Linked DNA regions of Homo sapiens: regions 1, 3, 4, 5 and 6 are each reported to be linked to region 2. Evidence: microRNA targets listed by miRTarBase, many of them from high-throughput screens and not tested one by one. Region 2 holds a microRNA gene; each other region holds the end of a gene's coding sequence.

What was found. The annotated mature microRNA hsa-miR-3916 reads AAGAGGAAGAAAUGGCUGGUUCUCAG and lies in region 2 at 1,200-1,225, shown strand. An mRNA with a match to its seed (bases 2 to 7 or 8) in the 3' UTR can be bound and repressed. Matches are read on the target gene's strand: a 7mer-m8 pairs with bases 2 to 8, a 7mer-A1 pairs with bases 2 to 7 and ends in A, and an 8mer does both.
Region 1: miRTarBase lists HGS as a target of hsa-miR-3916. Seed matches in the 3' UTR shown: 7mer-A1 at 2,699-2,705.
Region 3: the mRNA of SMKR1 is a reported target of hsa-miR-3916. Seed matches in the 3' UTR shown: 7mer-m8 at 2,309-2,315 and 7mer-m8 at 2,061-2,067.
Region 4: miRTarBase lists PRSS16 as a target of hsa-miR-3916. Seed matches in the 3' UTR shown: 7mer-m8 at 2,447-2,453.
Region 5: the mRNA of NHLRC3 is a reported target of hsa-miR-3916. Seed matches in the 3' UTR shown: 7mer-m8 at 1,546-1,552.
Region 6: miRTarBase lists SLC67A2 as a target of hsa-miR-3916. Seed matches in the 3' UTR shown: 7mer-m8 at 185-191.

Annotation. Positions count from the first base shown.
Region 1 is chr17:81,701,410-81,704,409 of GRCh38, reverse strand. It overlaps HGS (hepatocyte growth factor-regulated tyrosine kinase substrate), which reads right to left. Exons shown (of 22, transcript NM_004712.5): 22 at 2,289-2,902. The coding sequence ends at 2,792. MRPL12 (mitochondrial ribosomal protein L12) reads right to left here and starts at 1,043. Exons shown (of 5, transcript NM_002949.4): 1 at 835-1,043; 2 at 1-166. The coding sequence starts at 908. RefSeq lists a silencer at 676-1,055 and enhancers at 956-1,559, 1,546-1,615, 1,560-2,163, 2,768-3,000.
Region 2 is chr1:247,200,088-247,203,240 of GRCh38, reverse strand. It overlaps MIR3916 (microRNA 3916), which reads left to right and starts at 1,181; the gene lies at 1,181-1,274.
Region 3 is chr7:129,511,787-129,514,918 of GRCh38, reverse strand. SMKR1 (small lysine rich protein 1) reads right to left here. Exons shown (of 2, transcript NM_001195243.2): 2 at 2,001-2,672. The coding sequence ends at 2,478. Among named protein-coding and RNA genes, the nearest start is that of SMKR1, 11 kb to the right of the region's middle.
Region 4 is chr6:27,255,045-27,258,197 of GRCh38, reverse strand. It overlaps PRSS16 (serine protease 16), which reads right to left. Exons shown (of 12, transcript NM_005865.4): 11 at 3,067-3,153; 12 at 1,578-2,951. The coding sequence ends at 2,883. Among named protein-coding and RNA genes, the nearest start is that of PRSS16, 8.9 kb to the right of the region's middle.
Region 5 is chr13:39,047,612-39,050,764 of GRCh38, reverse strand. It overlaps NHLRC3 (NHL repeat containing 3), which reads right to left. Exons shown (of 7, transcript NM_001012754.4): 7 at 656-3,091. The coding sequence ends at 2,839. Among named protein-coding and RNA genes, the nearest start is that of NHLRC3, 11 kb to the right of the region's middle.
Region 6 is chr2:102,715,864-102,718,863 of GRCh38, forward strand. SLC67A2 (solute carrier family 67 member 2) reads right to left here. Exons shown (of 6, transcript NM_032718.5): 6 at 1-3,000. The coding sequence ends at 2,557. Among named protein-coding and RNA genes, the nearest start is that of SLC67A2, 20 kb to the right of the region's middle.

The DNA of each region.
Region 1 (3,000 bases), not on the chromosome of region 2:
TGAGATTTCCAAGAGAGTGAGGCTGGCGATGTCCTGGACCAGCTGCTGTATCTTGGGGGGGTACTCCTTGGGGGCGTTATCCAGGGGTGCACCAGCGAGGGCCTCACACCTCTGATGGCCGCTGCTCCTCATATGTCGCACGGCACAGACACATGGCACCTGTCGCCTAGCCCCCACCCCCAATTAAAACAGACTTGTCAGTCCTGGAATGGAAGGGGCTGCAGAAACCAGAGGGGCAGGACAACTGGGGGACTGGTGGGTGCCATAAGCTCAGGCTGGTAATCACTAGGGCCGGAAATTACCTAGCTCCTTGGTCCCAGTCCAGGGTTCTCAGACCTCAAGGGGTCCGTATTGATAAGATTTGCAAGTTACTTTAAATTCTTCAAAGAGCCTTAGAAAGCCACGTGTTTATTTGCAGCCATACCACTCAAACCTCAAGTTTCTGGTTTGAATGAACTACATCAACCCAGCGGTGGCGAAACTATTACTTAGGTGCATCTTCCTGCGCAAAGCCTCCCAAAACATGGGGGCCCCTGGCCGCAAAACGCCGCACCCACGGATGGGCCTTTGCTGCGGAAAAGGCTGAGGCCAAGGGAGGAGCAGGGAATCGTCCAAGGTCATCTGGGGCCGACCCCGGCGCTTTCCACGGCCCAGGAGGGAAGGGGCGTGCGCACCGGGAGGCCTCCTCCCCGCGCCCCCGATGGGACCCCCAAGCCCGGCCTGGCCGCTGCAGGGAGGCCGGCCCCGCCGCCCTCCTCGCCCGGATCGACCCCTCAGTGCCCGGCTGCCCCCTAACCCGCCTGCCGGCCCGGACCGCCCCAGGATCCCGCGTACCTGGCAAGGCGGAACGCAGCGGCCCGAAGCCCAAGGCAAGGCCCCCACAGGGGGCGAGCGGCCGCCGGCAGCATCGGTCCGCGGGCTGGAAGGTCACACGCGGTTCCCCGGGAGGAGGCGACGCTCTAGCCGCCTCGGCCGCCGGGCATTCGAGCTGGGGAGGAACGCTCTAGCCGCCACGGCTGCCGGGCATTCGAGCCGGAAATGACGCTCTAGCCGTACCTCGCGCTAGCCTCGTCTCACCCTGAGATTACCCACAAGGCGGCGCGCTGCGCAGACGCAAAAGCGTCGTCTGTGGCGGCAGCTAGACATCGGGCGACCCTCGTCCCGCCAGGTTTTGGGGTCGCGCAAACGAGCGACGGGGGCTGGGGCTCCGGATTCAGGTGTTCTTTCTTCAGCGCTCACGGGTTTCTGTCCGTACGCGATGCGAGCGAACGTCGCGGTCGAGGCTAGGGCCCCGAAGCCCGCAGTAATCCACGTCTCCCGCCCGCTCCGGGCCCCCAGTGCCGCCGTCGCGGGCGGAGGCGCGAGGTCTGGGCTTTGGCGCCTTCGCAGCCGCAGGCGACATCCTCTTTCCTAGCTAAAGCCCCAAACGCCCAGGTGGCTTCCTGGGAGAGCACGGCTGAGCCTCCGCCTTCAGATCAGAACAGGCAGAGCCTCCAAGGGCGGCTTGGGCCCAGTGCCTGCTTATCCTGCCCGTCTCTCCACACTTCTTCTTTCCCTGTCCGTTGGAGTCCATTCCTTCCTGGAAAAGCCAAAGCCGCGCTCCCCTAAGAGGCCTGGATGTGAAGGTGAGTGAGACGCCCTGGCCTCTGGGTGCAAAGGCCGGCGCCTGCCGCTTTCAACACTCAGGAGGCGCGTTTCAGCCCCGCTGGCCCCCGGCCGCAGACTCGGAGCGCTGAGCTCCCACCGTTCCCATCACCCGACTCCCTTCCCAGGAATGAGGAGCACCCGGGAAGCTTCAGCCACTACACGAAGGAGGCGCCAAGCCCAAACTCCTCCCCAGCTACCGGCGGGGTCAGTGCAGAGCCGCGGAGGGCACACATGAACCCTGGCACGCAGCCTCAGGGAGGGGCAGGCTGGAAATGACCCTGCCTGCAGCTGGGCCATCAGCCTGACCACCTGCCCCCTGAGCAAACGTTGATGCAGGTCGGGCGCGGTGGCTCATGCCTGTAATCCCAGCACTTTAGGAGCCCGAGGCAGGTGGATCACCTGAGGTTAGGCGTTCACGACCAGCCTGGCCAACATGGTGAAACACCGTCGCTACTAAAAATACAAAAACTAGCCAGGCATGGTAATGGGGTGCACCTGTAGTCCAGCTACTCGGGAGGCTGAGGCCCGAGAATCGCTTGAACCCAGGAGGCGGAGCTTGCAGTGAGCGGAGATCACCACTCCAGCCTGGGTGACAGAGTGAGACTCCATCTCAAAAAAATTAATTAAAGAAAAAACGCTGATGCTTTCTGAAATACATTTTATTATCGCTGTACCATTCTGGGGCACTGGAGATGGCAGCTGAGAAGCAGAGAAGCTGGAGACCTGAAGCCTCCACCCTTGGCTGTGGCTGCCGAGAGAGGCCCCTGCAGAGGGAGCCCCAGGCCACACCCAGACACCACAGCCAGCTCACAGTGCGGCCAGAGGGCACAGGCTGCTTGGGGGGTGAGGGTCCCCATTCCTGCCACCTCTCACAGACCATGACCCACAGGGCTGGGGGCTTCCCCTGGGAGAAAGTCCTTCCCTCCCCATGGCCCAGCCCTGGGGAAAGAAAGCAGAGACTAACTCAGGGACTGCAGTAGGCTGAGGACAAGGGAGGTGGGCTTGGGGTGAAGGCCCCCCCTCACTCGCAGAGAAGGGACACTACCGGCAGTAGAGGACAGGGAGGCAGGACGACGGCAGTTAGAGACGAGGCGTTTCAGGTGAACTGTATGTAGTGTTACTCCGGACGTGAGCATGGCCTGGGTCAGTCGAATGAAATGAGCTGGGCCTCGCTGCCCTGTGCCGGCGGCCCCTGTGCCTGCGGTTGCTGGGCCACGGGGGGCTGCTGCTGGGGGGGACCGCCAGAGGGTGCCATCTGTGCAGGAGGAAAGCAGGCATGGCCCTGGTCCTCCCTTCCCCAGCCCAGGGAGGAAGGCTTTTGTCCCAGCAGAGCCACAGACCCACAAGTGCTTG
Region 2 (3,153 bases):
TCAGACATTGCTGCCTTCTCTAGACTTTAGTAAACTTTAAACGCTCAGCAGAGAATGCCATTTTTCAGGATGGCGATTGGTGGTCTTCACTTGCAATCAGAAGCATTGCTGGGTTTTTTTTGTTTGTTTGTGTTTTGAGACCAAGTTCCCTCTTGCTGCCCCGGCTAGAGTGCAATGGTGCGATCTCAGCTCACTGCAACCTCTGCCTCCCAGGTTCAAGCGATTCGCCTGCCTCTGCCTTCCCCAGTAGCTGGAATTACAGGCATGCGCCACCACACCCGGCTAATTTTGTATTTTTAGTAGAGACACGGTTTCTCCATGTTGGTCAGGCTGGTCTTGAACTCCTGACCTCAGGTGATCCACCCGCCTCGGCCTCCCAAAGTGCTGGGATTACAGGCGTGAGCCACTGCGCCCGGCCAAAGCATTTCTGTTGTGATACCGGTGTTGAGTACAAGGGACTCTGTGCTGTATTTGCCTTCTCTAGCTGAGTGCTGCTGATGAGGAGTCCGGGGGAACAGTATCAGAAGACTTGTTATAGAAGCCCATTTGCAGACCCCTTTCACACCTGCGGAAACACATTACTTAGAATGGGGCCTGGAATACCAAATTAGAATACCAAATTATTTATATGTACATTGAAGCCAGAGAGACAGTACTCAGGTATGTGGTTCTCAGCCCAGGCTTTCAATTAGAAACAAATAGCCAGTTTGGAGAACTACCATCACACATGCTGTCTCCAAAGATCCTGTCTGTGGTCTGGATGGAAGCATAATTGTTGTTTTAAGTAAGTGCCCCCCAGCGATTCTAAGGTGAGATCAGAGTCAACCTTGAGGGCTCCCAGATACAGTCACGAGACTTGGGTTCCAAAAGGAGGTCAGAGGGCCTGCTCTTCGGTTTGATAAGGGTAGGTCACCAAGATCCATATTTCCTTTGCTGTACCAGAAATTGCTGGAGTTCATGGCAGGGGAGATCACCTGAAGGCAGGAAATTTTTGGTCTTTATGTGGTAGCTCATTTTTCCTCTCCTGTGATAAAGAATAGGGGAGTATTCCCTTTTCTGCACTGCAGGGCCTTCTGCCTCTAGGTGTGCTGGTTGCAGGTGAAAGGGTTGTGTTGACACCTTTAAAGACATATTCTCAAATGCAGGTGTGATTTGTCCAGATAATCTCACCTGAGAAGGAATCCCAGAGAAGAAGGAAGAAGAGGAAGAAATGGCTGGTTCTCAGGTGAATGTGTCTGGGTTCAGGGGATGTGTCTCCTCTTTTCTTCTGGGATGTTATGTGTTTAGAACTTGCAAACCTTTATTTCTGTACTTCTGATGTACCTGCCTAATGTGTTTCTTCCCAACTACCTTCCCCCCTTCCCCCCTCCTTTCTTATGATTGATAAGGAACTCTGTAAAATCCTTCCTCCTGTGTACCAGAACCTTCTCTCCATTCCCTCCTTCCAGGCTTCTTATATGTCATGACCAAATCTTACCATTAATGTATGATGGGCAGTATTCAGATGTTCTGTGACATATCAACATGGGAAAGTGTGGATCCCCAGGATTATCCGTGGGGATGGGGCTGGGTCTTGGGATGTCAGTGAAGAAGGGGATCATGTACCGTTTAGATTTCATCCACATGCTCCATCATCTCTATGCAGAACAGAATTAAGAAAAGAGACATTTAAAGAGGATGGCATTCATTGCCTGGAATAACTTAAAGTTCTGAAAAGAGAATAATTAGAAGACATTTGCTGTCTAGGATGCTAAAGAAACACTATTGAAATACCCTATTGCAGATTAAAGAACCAGGGAAACAGCTATAGCTTGAACTTTGCATAAAACTGATGTTTCTGGCCAGGCACTGTGGCTCACACCTGTAATCCCAGCACTTTGGGAGGCTGAGGCGGGCAGATCACTTGAGGTCAGGAGTTCAAGACCAGCCTGGCTAACATGATGAAACCCCATCTCTACTAAAAATACAAAAATTAACTGGGCATGGTGGTGCACGCCTGTAATCCCAGCTATTTGGGAGGCTGAGGTGGGAGAATCACTGGAACCTGGGAAGCAGAGGCTGCAGTGAGCCAAGATTGCACCATTGCACTCCAGCCTGAGCGACAGAGCAAGACTGTCTCCAAAAAACAAAACAAAAAAAGGATGTTTCTACATGATTAGGTTCAGATTGTAATTTACTATTTTTGTGGTCAATAATATTAGAGCAGTGATACTTTGTCCTTGATGTCATGTGATCCTTGATGTCATTTTATCCTTGACATCTTTGATGTTGATTTATCCTATTATAGTTGATCTTAATTTTATTTACTTGGTTAAGGTGCTCTCTGCCAGATTTTTGCACGATAGAGATATTTTTTTCATTATTGTTTAGTACCTTGGGGAGATTTACTGACTGATACATATAAGCCATCACATTTAATTAGGAAGCTCTTCTTTCTTTTTAGATTCTCCTCGCTTATAGCTTGCTTTGGAAAATGAAGGCTCTCGTGTTTGTTTATTGGTTAGATAAACTGAAATAAACACAGGCTCTGCCACTTCCTGCATGTTTGAAAAAATATTTTCCTTGGCCCAGACACAGTGGCATCACTGTATGGCTCACTTAGAAATTCAGAGACTCAGGCTTCACCCTAGGTCCTCTGAATCACAACCTGCATTTTAAGAGGATCTCTAGTTTATTGTGTACGCATTAAAATTTCAGGGGTACCTTCTGATGAATCATGACCTCTACATATGAGAAATATTTACAGTTTATCCTGTGTGAGGTAAATAGAGCAGGAAAAAATGTATATGCCTGCGTTGATGCCCTTAATTTTATACTGTATTATTCACAAGAGTAGAATATGTACACTGGTTATGTGGAGCTTATGCCATCCTCTTTCTTCAGGATTAAAGAATATGTTAGAGAATATTTCTGTGTTTACAATTATTTGATCATTTCAGTCTCTTCTATAAGTAAGAACCAGTTCTCTCTGTCTCTCTTTGTGCCTGGAATCAGATTAAGAACTCTGCCCATGACCACTTGATACGTATGTGTTTTTTCTTTGCCAGGGACTGTTGATATTCAGGGATGTGGCCATAGAATTCTCTCCGGAGGAGTGGAGCTATCTGGACCCTGCTCAGCAGAATCTGTATAGGGACGTGATGTTAGAAAACT
Region 3 (3,132 bases), not on the chromosome of region 2:
CGGCCAATCAGACCAGTGCTTCCCCCATCCCAGCACTCACAGTCCTGGCTCATCATTTCATCATCTCAAAAGAAAAGAGCATGACCACTTTCAGACCTTGTTAGCCTGTAAATGCCTGTATCTGTGCTACAGATGAGCAGCATTTCAAGTCGTCTGGAGTAAAGTCTGTGCTGCTGGCAATAGCTGTGTTATCCTGACTTTTCTTCCCCAAGCCCTGTTCTCTGTAACAGAGACGTGTTGTGAAATGCTGTCACTTGCTTCTCCCTTTCCCTTGGGAGCACCCGGCCAATGGAAGCCTTGCAGGTGCGGGCAGTCAGGGATCAAAAGGAAGCTTTGCAGCTGCCTTCTCCCCAAACTTCCAATAACCAGCTACTCAAATACACGCTCCTGAACCCAGGTGAGGCAGGAAAGGACATTACACATCCCACAGGTTCGGATTCCACTAAGCCTTTTAGCTTCTGGGTAGGCAGCATTAACTGGAGCGGCAGCTCTCTACCTGTGTGGCTGGGCAGCACCAGCATAACCTGCCAGCGTACCAGAAACGCAAATCCCTGAGCCCCATCCTTCCTGCGAGGGTAGGGCCCAGCAATCTGCACTTGGCCAAGTGTTCTAGGTGACCGAGAGGCACACTCAAGTGTGAGAACTGCTGAACTGGAGTTAGTGAGTTCAGCAGTCCTTAACAGGGTGGGAAGGTGCTCCCCGTCTCCAAAACCAGAAAACACAGCAGAGGAGACCTCCCTTCAGATTCACCCAAGTGAGGGCTCCTCTGGCAACTGGCCAAGGGCTTCTATGGAAACTGCACAGATGGTGCAGGTAAACAGTATTGTTCCCAACAGGCTCACGTGGGTCATGGGCACCCCACTTCTCTAGCACAGAGATTCATGGAGCTTCCTTTTTTTCTCTGATGTGTATGAAATCCTGAGTCCTGAGTTGCAGCTTCCCTTAGCAAACCTCATGAATCCTTGCGATCCTCACAAGGCCACCTGGAGCATAATTATAATTCCAACAAACTAGAACATCCCCGGAGGTGCTGCCTACAGTGTGTCAGCTTTGGGCTCAGAACCATGAATGGAGACAACGGTGCAGGGGCTGAGGAGGGGCAGGAAGAGCCAGGAAGACAGAGCAGGAGGCAAGGATGGAGTGCTCAGGGAGTCAAAGACGGCGTCCGCACTTGCAAAACGCTGGCTTTCACATCTGGAGAATTTAGGCCTCTGGGCCGAGGAGAAAGAACTATAGTTTCACCTCTTAGGCGTCTCCTTACAGGGCTAGGGAGATCTAGAATATCAGCCGAATGCCCAGGGCAAGTAAGTGCCTGGCACCAATTCTATAACTCGGGGCCAGCCAAGTTTTAACAAAGTAGGCAGAAGGTGGGACGAAATAGAGTGTGGAGGGAAGGAGGGAGAAGAGTCAGGTGAAATATGGAAAAAAGAGGGATGGCCAGGTGCGATGGCTTTCACCTGTAATAAAACACTTTAGGAGGCTGAGGCAGGTGCAGTGGCTCATGCCTGTAATCCCAGCACTTTGGGAGACTGAGGCGGGTGCAGTGGCTCACGCCTATAATCCCATCACTTTGGGAGACCGAGGCGGGCAGATCACCTGAGGTCAGGAGTTTAAGACCAGCCTGGCCAACACGGTGAAACCCCATCTCTACTAAAAATAAAAAAATTAGCCTGGGCTGGTGGCGTGCGCCTATAATCCCAGCTACTTGGGAGCCTGAGGCAGGAGAATCGCTTGAAACCGGGAGGCAGAGGTTGCAGTGAACTGAGATTTCGCCACTGCACTCCAGCCTGGGCAACAGAGTGAGACTCCGTCTTAAAAGAAAAAAGAAAGGGATGGGCAGATTTGCCCCCTTTGCCCTGCATCCAGCCATTTCACACTGTCAGCCACTTCTCACCATCTGCTTGCAAGACTGGCAGGGTCAGAGCATTCGTGACCATCTTAGCATCCGTGGAGCCTGTGGCTAATTCAAATCAAACAGAGTCAGACTGCTGAGAAGAAAATTATAGAAACAAAGTATTTATTATTTTCCATTAAAAAAAAAAAAGGAAATGGTGCCCAAGAGAGGAATGTTCCTAAGGAAACCCAGTGTTTCTTGCCGTGTCTTCTCTAAATGACAAACGCTCTTTGGCAAAAGAAAACAATTAATGCAACTAGAACTGCCTTCTGAGAGCAAAGTTTAATCCTGACCCAGAATTATAATAATTTCTGAAAGTTCTATTAATTTCAGCACACTGTGTAGGAATTACTCAGGCTTTTCCCATCCTATAGCTCCTAAAAAACCAAAGTGGCTAACCATATCTGGCATAACAGAGGAAGTAAGGTGCATTTCCTGATCTTCCACCATCACAGAAAAGCACACTTAATTTGCATCTCAAGTCGTCTGGAGTAAAGTCTATGTTGCTGGCAACAGTTGTGTTATCCTGACTTCTCTTCCCCAGGTCCTGTTGTCTGTAACAGAGATGTGTTGTGAAATGCTGTCACTTGCTTCTCCCTTTCTTTCCTTTGGGAGCACCCGGCCAATGGAAGCCTCGCAGATGCAGGCAGTCAGCGACGTTGTGGGCGATGTAGTAGAGGTTCAGCATGGCCGCGGGGCTGAGAATGTCCACTTCTGGTTTCTTCTGTTTCTTCCCATGAGACTTGCCCTGGCCTTTTCCTTTTTTCCCTTTAGCTGGCTTTCAAAGACAAATATAAATATGGGAGGAGGGAAGTTAGTTTTTTGGTTTTTGTTTTTTTTGAGACAGGGTTTCACTCCCAACACCCAGGCTGGAGTGTAGTGACATGCTCTTGGCTCACTACAACCTCCACCTCCCGTGCTCAAGTGATCCTCCTGCCTCGGCCTCCCAAGTAGCTGGGATTACAAGGTGTGCCCCATCACTCCCGGCTAATTTTTGTACTTTTAGTAGAGACAGGGTTTCACCATGTTGGGTAGGCTGCTCACAAACTCCTGACCTCAAGTGATCTGCCCACCTCAGACTCCCAAAGTGCTGGGATTACAGGTGTGAGCCATCTTGCCAGGCCGAGTTAGTTTTTATAAACTTGGTATCATTTTCAGTATTTCTGTATTGAACAAGGAAAAAAAATTCCTAAAAGGAAATAAGTCAAAATAGCAGCCACAACAAACAGTTTGCATCG
Region 4 (3,153 bases), not on the chromosome of region 2:
CACGACTGGCTGCTTGGGGCCCCTGCGTGAAGGGGTTGACTTTATTTGGAGTAGAACATGGAAAAATCTGGCCTAAGGGCAATGCTGAAAATAGAGGTCACAGTGAAGAGTAATCAGGGAAAGCTGACAGCTCAAGGATACTAACAGAAGCATGCAAGTTAATATATTTAATTTAGAAATCTACCAGAAATTTAAAAATGACATCTAGGGATGGCTGAAGGGCACCCTACCCTTGTGCATATGCACAGTCATCGAGACCACCCACTCATCTCTGGCGATCTGGAAGACTGAATACATGCATAAGGGTGGGCTTGCTCAGAAAAGACCAGAAAGGTTACTGTCTCTGGCTGAATGCACAGTAGACTTGTAAACTCCCTGAACTTAGAGAGCAATCCCCAAGCCACATGAGATCCAACAGACAAAGGTTGAGAATTGAATATACAAATGGATAATGGCCAAACTAAAAGTAAAAGTAGACTTCTGACCTACAACCTGCAGTAACCAGCCCAGAAAGCCAACCTACTATTACAGTAACCAGTCCAGGAAGTCAAGCTGCTATCTGTAGCAAACAGTAGAGGAAGACAAACAATAATACCCCTGTACCGATTGGCTCCAAATGGCCAGCACTTACTAAATATAATAACTCACAATTCCTTAATTTTTGTTCTTGCTTTCAACTAAGGACCAATGAGGGAAAGCCATACATGTACTCCCAACCAATCACATATGATGCCCCTCTTCTAGTTAGCCTGCCCACAGCTTCCCCATGCCACAGCTTCCAGTTAAGGCATACCTAGAACCTTCTCTTTTTTCCACTATAGCGCTTTCCCACTCCTCTGCCTGTTGTGAGTCTCTGCCAAACACAAGTGATGATGGTGGATTCTCTTGGTATAGCAAGTGCTGAATAAATAGCCTTCACTTGTTATCATGTTGGTGGTGGTATGGGTTGAACTGTGTCCCATCTTCTCCCCAAAAAAGATATATTGAACTCCTTATCCCCAGTACCTCAATCTGTGATCATATTTGGAATCAGGGTATTCACAGAGGTAACCAACTTAAAATCAGATCAACAGGCTGGGCCTAGCCCAAGATAACTGGTATCCTCATAAAAGGGGAAATTTGGACACATGGATAGGCACATGCAGAAGGAAGGTGATGTGAAGGCACACAGGGAAAATGGCCATGTGACTGGAGTAATGCATCTACAGGCCAAGGAACACAGGAATGCTGGCAAACACCAGAAGCCAGAAGAAGCACAGAAGCATTTTCTATTTGTCTTTCTAATCTCCTTCTGTTTCTCTGAATATCTTCATTTCTATCTCTGTGTTTTTGTCTGTTTCTCTATTTATCTTTCTGTCCTTCAATCTGTGTTTTCGTTTCTGGCTCTCCGTCAGTGTCTTTGTCTCTCCTCTCTCTCTTGCTCTGCCCTGGCTATTTCCACTGCTCTATTTTTGACTCTCATTTTTGGTCAAGGAAGGATTAGAAGGCAAGGAAGGATTCTCCCCTAGAGCTGTGAGAAAGAGAATGGCTCTGCTGACACCTTGATTTCAAACTTCTAGACACAAAAACATATAATATATACTGCAAGTTTCCATTTATATAAAGATCAAGAACAGGCAGAACTAAAGTGTAGTGGAGATTGACTTTGGTATGACAGCATGAGGAGGTTGCCTCTTACCCACAAGGAAATATGAAACTGGATAAAACTCTAAAACTACCATCTCTGTGCATACAAAGACATACAAAAAGCTGAGAAGTATTTATTGCTGAAAATAATTGATCTTTAGGAAAGAACAGTGCAAATCTATGGCAGGTTCCTGTCACAGCTAACATAGCCTAAGCAGGCACCCTTGGGATTAGCCCTATCCTCCCAGGCCCTGGAAGAAGGAATCTCCACCAGAATCATGAATCCCTAGAGTTGGAAGCTGGAAGTACCAGGGAGTGATATTTGATTGTGGGAAAAGATGGTGAGTGAAGGGTGTGGAAGGAAGACTAAATAAGAGAGATAGAGAAGGAAAAGATTAAGTGACAGGAAGAGAAATAGAGACACAGAAGAAGAGCATCAGAGACAGAAATAGAGCCTCAGGGAGACAGAGAGATTGAGGACACAGCAGAGGAGAGACAGAAATAGAGCCTCAGGGAGACAGAGAGATTGAGGACACAGCAGAGGAGAGACAGAAATAGAGACAGAGACAGAGTGAGAAAGAAAGTGACTAGGAGACACACAGAGACCAAAAATGAGAGTCAGAAATAGAGCAGTGGAAATAGCCATGGCAGAGCAAGAGAGAGAGGAGAGAAAAAGACACTGACGGAGAGCCAGAAACAAAAACACAGATTGAAGGACAGAAAGATAAACAGAGAAATAGACAGAAACACAGAGATAGAAATGAAGATATTCAGAGAAACAGAAGGAGATTAGAAAGACAAATAGTGACAGGGGAAAGAGAGAGGAAGAGACTGAGGGAAAGGGGTACAGTGAGAGAAACTGAGAAGCAAGGACAGGTTCAGGATCTAAAGTCCAGAAAAAGAAACTTACAGCAAAGCCCCTAACCCAGGAGCTGGAGTGGCAGAATTTGAACCAGAATCTGATCAGCAGGGCGAGGGCACCAGCATAAGTCACATTTGTTTGACATTTAACATTCAAAATACCAATATTTACAATGAGAATAATCATCCACTTATATTTCCATAACTCTCTGCAATAAAGCACTTTAAGTTGGGAATAAGGATGTTTGCAGACACATGCCAATTACGTGCGGAACAGGTGCTGAATTCCAATTCCTGGGAGTTTCTTCTTTCAAAACAAGCTGCTTTCTTTTGTTCAGTGAACAAGTATGTCCAGGACTGAGGTGACCATGCAGGGAGTGGAAAGGGTATGAGATTCAGACTTCACCCTTAATCTGGCTCTCCTTTGCCAGCTTGAGCCAGGTCTGTAGCTGCTGGAAGATGTTCTGTGGGGAGGTGGGAAGAATTTGAAAGTCAGATTTCAGCACCAGCAGAAGGAGGGAACATGCAAGTGATTATTCAAATGAGAATGCAAATGATTCAGAGCCTTTTTTCTCTTACCTGGCGCCCTAGGCGGAGGCTGGGGGAGTCTGAGGGCCTCTCAGGTGCCATGTCCAAGCAGTGGGAGCCAGTGCGGATAAGAAGAGT
Region 5 (3,153 bases), not on the chromosome of region 2:
ATACAAAAAAAAAAAAATTAGCCGGGTGTGGTGACGGGCGCCTGTAGTCCCAGCTACTCGGGAGGCTGAGGCAGGAGAATGGCATGAACCCGGGAGGCGGGGCTTGCAGTGAGCCGAGATGGCGCCACTGCACTCCAGCCTGGTCGACCGAGCGAGCGAGACTCCTGCGCTCCAGCCTGGGCGACCAAGCGAGACTCTGTCTCAAAAAAAAAAAAAAAAAAAAAAATTCGTGGTAAATCTCTGTTCACCATCAGATTTCATCCAAGTTTTCTCTGATCGATAAATATTCCACTTGAAAGACCCAATCTGATGGTACAGGTAGGGAAAGATAGAGCTAAATCTATAGCCTTTGGTTTTCTAATTTAGAACACTTTCTCCCCTCCCCACTCCAAGAATAGACCTAAAAAGTAGAAGTATAAAGATGTTCCACTTTTAATGCAGAAATGTAGACAATTAGCTAGTTATTACTGTCAGTTGTACCCTCCCACCACCTCAAAACAAGCTACATTCTTTAAATGTTCTAAGCAACTTCTAGTCATATTTATGCACATCAGCTTACACGCTATATGTGTGAAAAGTGGGATATTCTTTCAGCATCAACTTGTGATTTCATAATTGCTGAAATTCTTTAAAGGAATAAAAAGTTATAGACTGCTTTTGTGACAATAAAATCAAACTTTAATTGGGGAGCCAGATAATATTGCCTTTTCTTTCCAAAATTTTAATTTATACTTTTTAGTAAAAAACATAACACATTTCTCATTCATTTAACCAATTAATCCAAAGGAAAAAAGTGAAGTACTATAATCACAGGTACACTAACAAACACTTTTACAAAGACATTCAGAAATATTTGCAGCAGGTTTTATAAGACTCTGATATAAAACAAAGTAAAATAAAACGTTTTGAAATGGCAAAATCGGTTTACCTAGCCTGAATTGCTTCAAAGAGGCATTTGCACTTCTTGTCCTGGCTTAATAAAACAAAGTAAAATAAAACATTTTGAAATTTCAAAATCAGTTTAGCCTAAATTGCTTCAAAGAGGCATTTGCACTTCTTGTCCTGGCTTAAAAACAAACCCTGAAATTACTTTCTTTTATCCAAATCAATTGACCATATTAATCTGCATAAAGTCTATGAGGATACGTTTTGATAAATGCTATAAACACAAAATTAAGGCAAATCTGATAGTTATTGTCAAATAAATAGCACATTTAGAAGGGCCTTTGTTAATAAAATGCCTCTAATGTATCCAGAGGTATAGATTTCAAAGGGCAAGTCTGTACCTGTTGCACATCTGATTCTCACAGCATTCATGAAAGAGGAGACAATGATATTCCCATTTCACTGAAAACTAAGGTGACTTGTTTAAGGTCATACAGTCCGATCAGTGGCACCAACACATTTACCAATGGCCTTGGAATACAGAGTACAGGGCTTCCTGTTGGTAGATTTACCTTCCTAACCTCACGGAGATGTGATCCAAGTATCAAAACAAGTGTGAGTCCCTTCAGGTCTGGAAAATACTCCAGCCATAACAGGTGAAGAGGAAAGTCAGCTCAAGATTTGTCATATGCTACACAATTTACAGTAAAACACTGGGAAAAGCAGGAAGCTGATGTGAGGAAGGGTGAAGAATGATTTGAAAGATTACAAAATGGCAAAGTTCCTCCAAAACCTATAATAAGCTAAAACAAACTGGAAAAAAAAAAAAAAAGGTCTTAATTGGGAAGCCAATATTCACACCAAAGGAGGGAGTGGGAGGAGAAGATGTAGGAGGAAAGCAGGAAATTATCATCTTAACAGCTCAAAGGATTTGGCACATATCCATGTTATCTAAATAATCTTGAAATTTCTTTGAGGTAGACAAATGTTAGGAATAAGTTGAGTTCATGTAAAACAAAAGAAAGAAAAAGAAAAAAAAAGAGAAGGAAGCTCTACAATCCTTAGTTATTTGTAAAAACCTCTTTTACTAAAGTGCTTAGATGCCAGCCATTTTATTCCTACATTTAAAGGCTGACTGACATTAAATATCTTATAGGTAATGGACAGAAGCCAAGTTGGGCTTTAAAAAAGGCCTAAAAGCCTATCAAAGTTTACAGTACACTTCTAACTTTTTATACCTTCTTTACTTGGAAATTATTGTTTTCTCCTCCTTGTCCCTTGGTAAGCTCCTCCTCAGTTTTCAAGTCTGAGCTCAAATTCACTTCTCCTGCGAAGTATCCATGATTCCCTCAGTCAAATGCAGCACTCCTACTCCAAAAGTCCCACTATGCTCCAAGGTCGCTTTTGCTGTGTTGTGACTGTTTGCCTGCTTGTCTCCCCACTAGACTGCAAGCTACTCAAAAGGCAATCCTGCTTTTTCATTTTTAAGTCGTCAAGACACAGCACTCTGTGGGTACTCAAATTAATCAATAGTTCATCTTATTTACAATCTCTCAAGCAGCTCATTTTATGTTAGTTGCACAATCTGGAGGTCTGGAGTTCTTCACATGAAATTTAATAAATTATCATGCAAGCTCATTTTTATTCCCATTTTTTTTACCCAGGGAGAATCAGTCTACCAGGGCAAATAATGAGGTTACCACCTTAGTCCCTCTTCCCAACCCCATTTTTTAGTTACTTTCCTTTCATTAAAATATCCTTATGCACTTACAAATAAAACTAAGTCCCAAGAGGGCAACAAAATATAAGATTCTTAATGATACAAAAACAAATCTTTCTGATACTAGATCTTTTATACTAGAAAAATAAATTCTTGTGCTTGAACATCATTTTTAAGCACTTAGTGAATTGAGAATCTGAACTGCCACTTGAAATATTCCCAGGAAAGAAACATTATGAACCAAATGAAGGAACATAGCTATTCAAAGGGACATATTTTTGTACTTGTTTTGCTCCAATTTCTGCTACATAGACTGCTCCAGTCTTTCTGTCGACTTCTAGGAGATGTGGCAAAACTTGATCTGCTAGTTGGATTGTGCTGATCACAGAACACTCCCCAATGCTTCCCACTGGGGGTGCTGCTACGACTGAGAGCCTGCTAAGATTCAGCTGGGCCACAATCAAGTACTTCCCATCAGGAGTAAACCTAAGGAGAAAGACATTTAACATAATAAATGTCTGTGAAAAAACATAAGGGTATTTTTTTTC
Region 6 (3,000 bases), not on the chromosome of region 2:
CCTGAGATTATATTCCATAAGTGATACAAATACTACCCCTTAGACCAGGGGTTTTCAAAGTTTGCTGTGCAAAAAATCAGCTAGGTATCTTATTAAAATGGTCCCCAACATGTCTGAGCTGGAGCTTCAGTGTTCACAGGTCTCAGGTGATGCTGATGCTACTGGTCTCTGGGTCACACTTTAAAGAGGAAGACATTAGATAAAGTAAAAGGAGTCATGAGAAAAGGTGCACCTAAAAAACATCACATAACAAAATACTAAAGTCACTAGTGGAGAATAACAAACATGTCTCTCTACTCTATATTCTAAGATCAGTCTTTGGTTTTCTATATTTCCATGTGTCTGATTATAAAGACTCATTAAGTTTATGGGCTTTTTAAACTTCAAAAATAAAGTGCTACGATTTTTAAAATAAAAACACGACTATAAGGGCTTTTAAGAAACTTGCCTGTTTCTGAGAGTGAAGGACAATCTTTGAGATCCAAACTCTTCTGAAATTCTATTTCATTGCATAAACCCTCGATTATTTATTGCCTTTTGAGTCTAATCTCCATGAGATTTAATTTGCTCCTTAAGGGCAAGGCCATTTTATATATTAATAATAGTTTGGTCTCCTCGAAAGCACTTAACATTTACATAAAAGTTCACAATTGTAAAACCTAATCAGAAGTCCATTTTTCCTTGCAGCAAGATAGGAAAAAGGACAATCTTCAAACTAAAACATACTTCCAATTATTTATCATAAATATTTGATTTTACTCCATGACTTCTAAAATACAGAAATGTTTACTGCTTTACAAACAATAAATATTAAAGATATGACAAATTACTGTAGCATACTAAAATATTTACAAGTATGCATGTGTTAAGTTGAAAACAGGCATACCATCCTAGTGGACTAATTAAGAAAAGTAAAAGGAATGTGAACTTCAACTGTCTGACAGGAAGCCCTTAAGTAACTGATTAATACTTGATGCAATCCCAATGGTCATCCTGCCTGGCATATGTCTCCCTGCAAGGCTATGTTCACCTTCTGTCTGGGCCTCTGCCTCTCGTGGCCCCCTCGGTGCTGTATATGAAACTTGTTTAGACAAGAAATGGCACATCAAAATATTTCCGTTGATCAACAGAATGCTTGTGTTTGCAGGCGTGAAACTAAAAATAAAGGAAATGATTCTTTTTTTTTTGAGACGGAGTCTCACTCTGTCGCCCAGGCTGGAGAGCAGTGGCACAATCTTGGCTCACCGCAAGCTCCGCCTCCCAGGTTCACGCCATTCTACCTCAGCCTCCCGAATAGCTGGGACTGCAGGCGCCCGCCATCACGCCCGGCTAATTTTTTTTTTGTATTTTTAGTAGAGACGGGGTTTCACCATGTTAGCCAGAATGGTCTCCATCTCCTGACCAAGTGATTCACCTGCCTCAGCCTCCCAAAGTGCTGGGATTACAGGCCTGAGCCACCGAGCCTGGCCAGGAAATGATTCTTAACACAAGACACAGTAGCATCAAGTTCTGGTCTGGCATGACTCCTGACCCTTATTCTGCATAAACTGTTCATTTTTAAAGCATTCCTGTGCTTTGGCTTCACCACTGGGTTCTGTCAGCACCAGAAGGATGCAACCTGACTGGAATGCAGGCTTCCAGGAGCAGGCTGTGGCAACCCCAGCATCTAAGTGGTTTAGTCCAACTTCAGAGCAAGCTGGGCTCTCAGAGGCAGGGAGCACAGGGAACAGGTCCCAGGGGCCCGCTGCTCCATCATGCAGTACAACTGCTGAGAGCTGGGAAAGGTGTAACACACTGTGATTACAAACACAATTTTAAGAGTCCAAATTTAGTTAGCTGTGTAAAAACAGCCAAGCCTATGTACTTTAATCAAAATCAGTGCAGTCTCAGTGTGGTCTTTACTGCCATGAGAAATCGCCAGCAGTGCTTACAAAACACCACGGATTTCTTGGCCCCACCCAGGCCCACTGAATCATCTCTAGGGGTGAGGTCAGTATCTTATTTTTAAGCAGCTTTGAAAAGCGACAGGCTGGTTCTAATAAACCAGCTTCTTCAATCTGCAGGATTTTGATAGAAAACTCCCTCCTAGTGTATGGAATTTAACTGGAAACTCAAGTTCCAGTTGATCAGAATTTGACTGACATGTCACCCTATTTTTCAGTAGGAAAATGCTTGTGGTTTCTTCCCTTCCTCCAGGTATCATGTTCTCTTATTCCACCACCACTTCCCTATCCTGTAGCTGGTAGTTTGTTTACCCTTGAAAATTGTAACCTGATTAGCCCAGGTGGGAAGAAGAGACTTCCAGGTAAACGCTGAATATGCTCACCTTGGAAAAGCTTTGCTCCAGTCTTAACCTTCCCATGAGGTGCCGTGACTTCTGATCATCCTGCAGGCATGGCTGCATGGCCAAGAGCTGACCTGGAAGCCCAACAGCTCACACCCACCCGGAAATATTTCCCTTCCACCCCAACCCTTTCCAAAGTGCCCTTTTCATCATGGCCTCCGGCCCTCATTCAACCATCTCAAATTTTGTTGCTTTATGTTGTCCAAATCCATCTACTCACTTTTTAATTTACTATTCCCATCACCACTAGAGTGTCGCTTGTTTAGAGACATTATGAAAATGGCCACTAAGGCTAACACAGCGCCCAGGCTGGGGGGGCCGCAAGGGCTGACCTCCTGGGCAACCCCCGAGAGGAGAGGGGCGATGATGCGGCCCACTGCAGTCACAGACTGCCCCACGCCAATAAGGGTGCCGCTGGCCTGGGCCCCGCCCACAGTCAGCTGGAGGTCCGTGATGCACGTCCTGCCAATGGCAGTGGAGAAGGACAGGAGAGTGGAGGAGAGGACAACTGCACCCATGGTGGGGGCCAAGGAGTAGAGCAGCAGCAGTGTGCAGGTGAGTATGCTGGAATGCAGCAGCAGTGCCTGCGAGTTGTGCTTGTACAGCCGTAGGATTGGCCCCAGGGCAAGGCCGGCCACGGCCCCCAGCATGCTGCT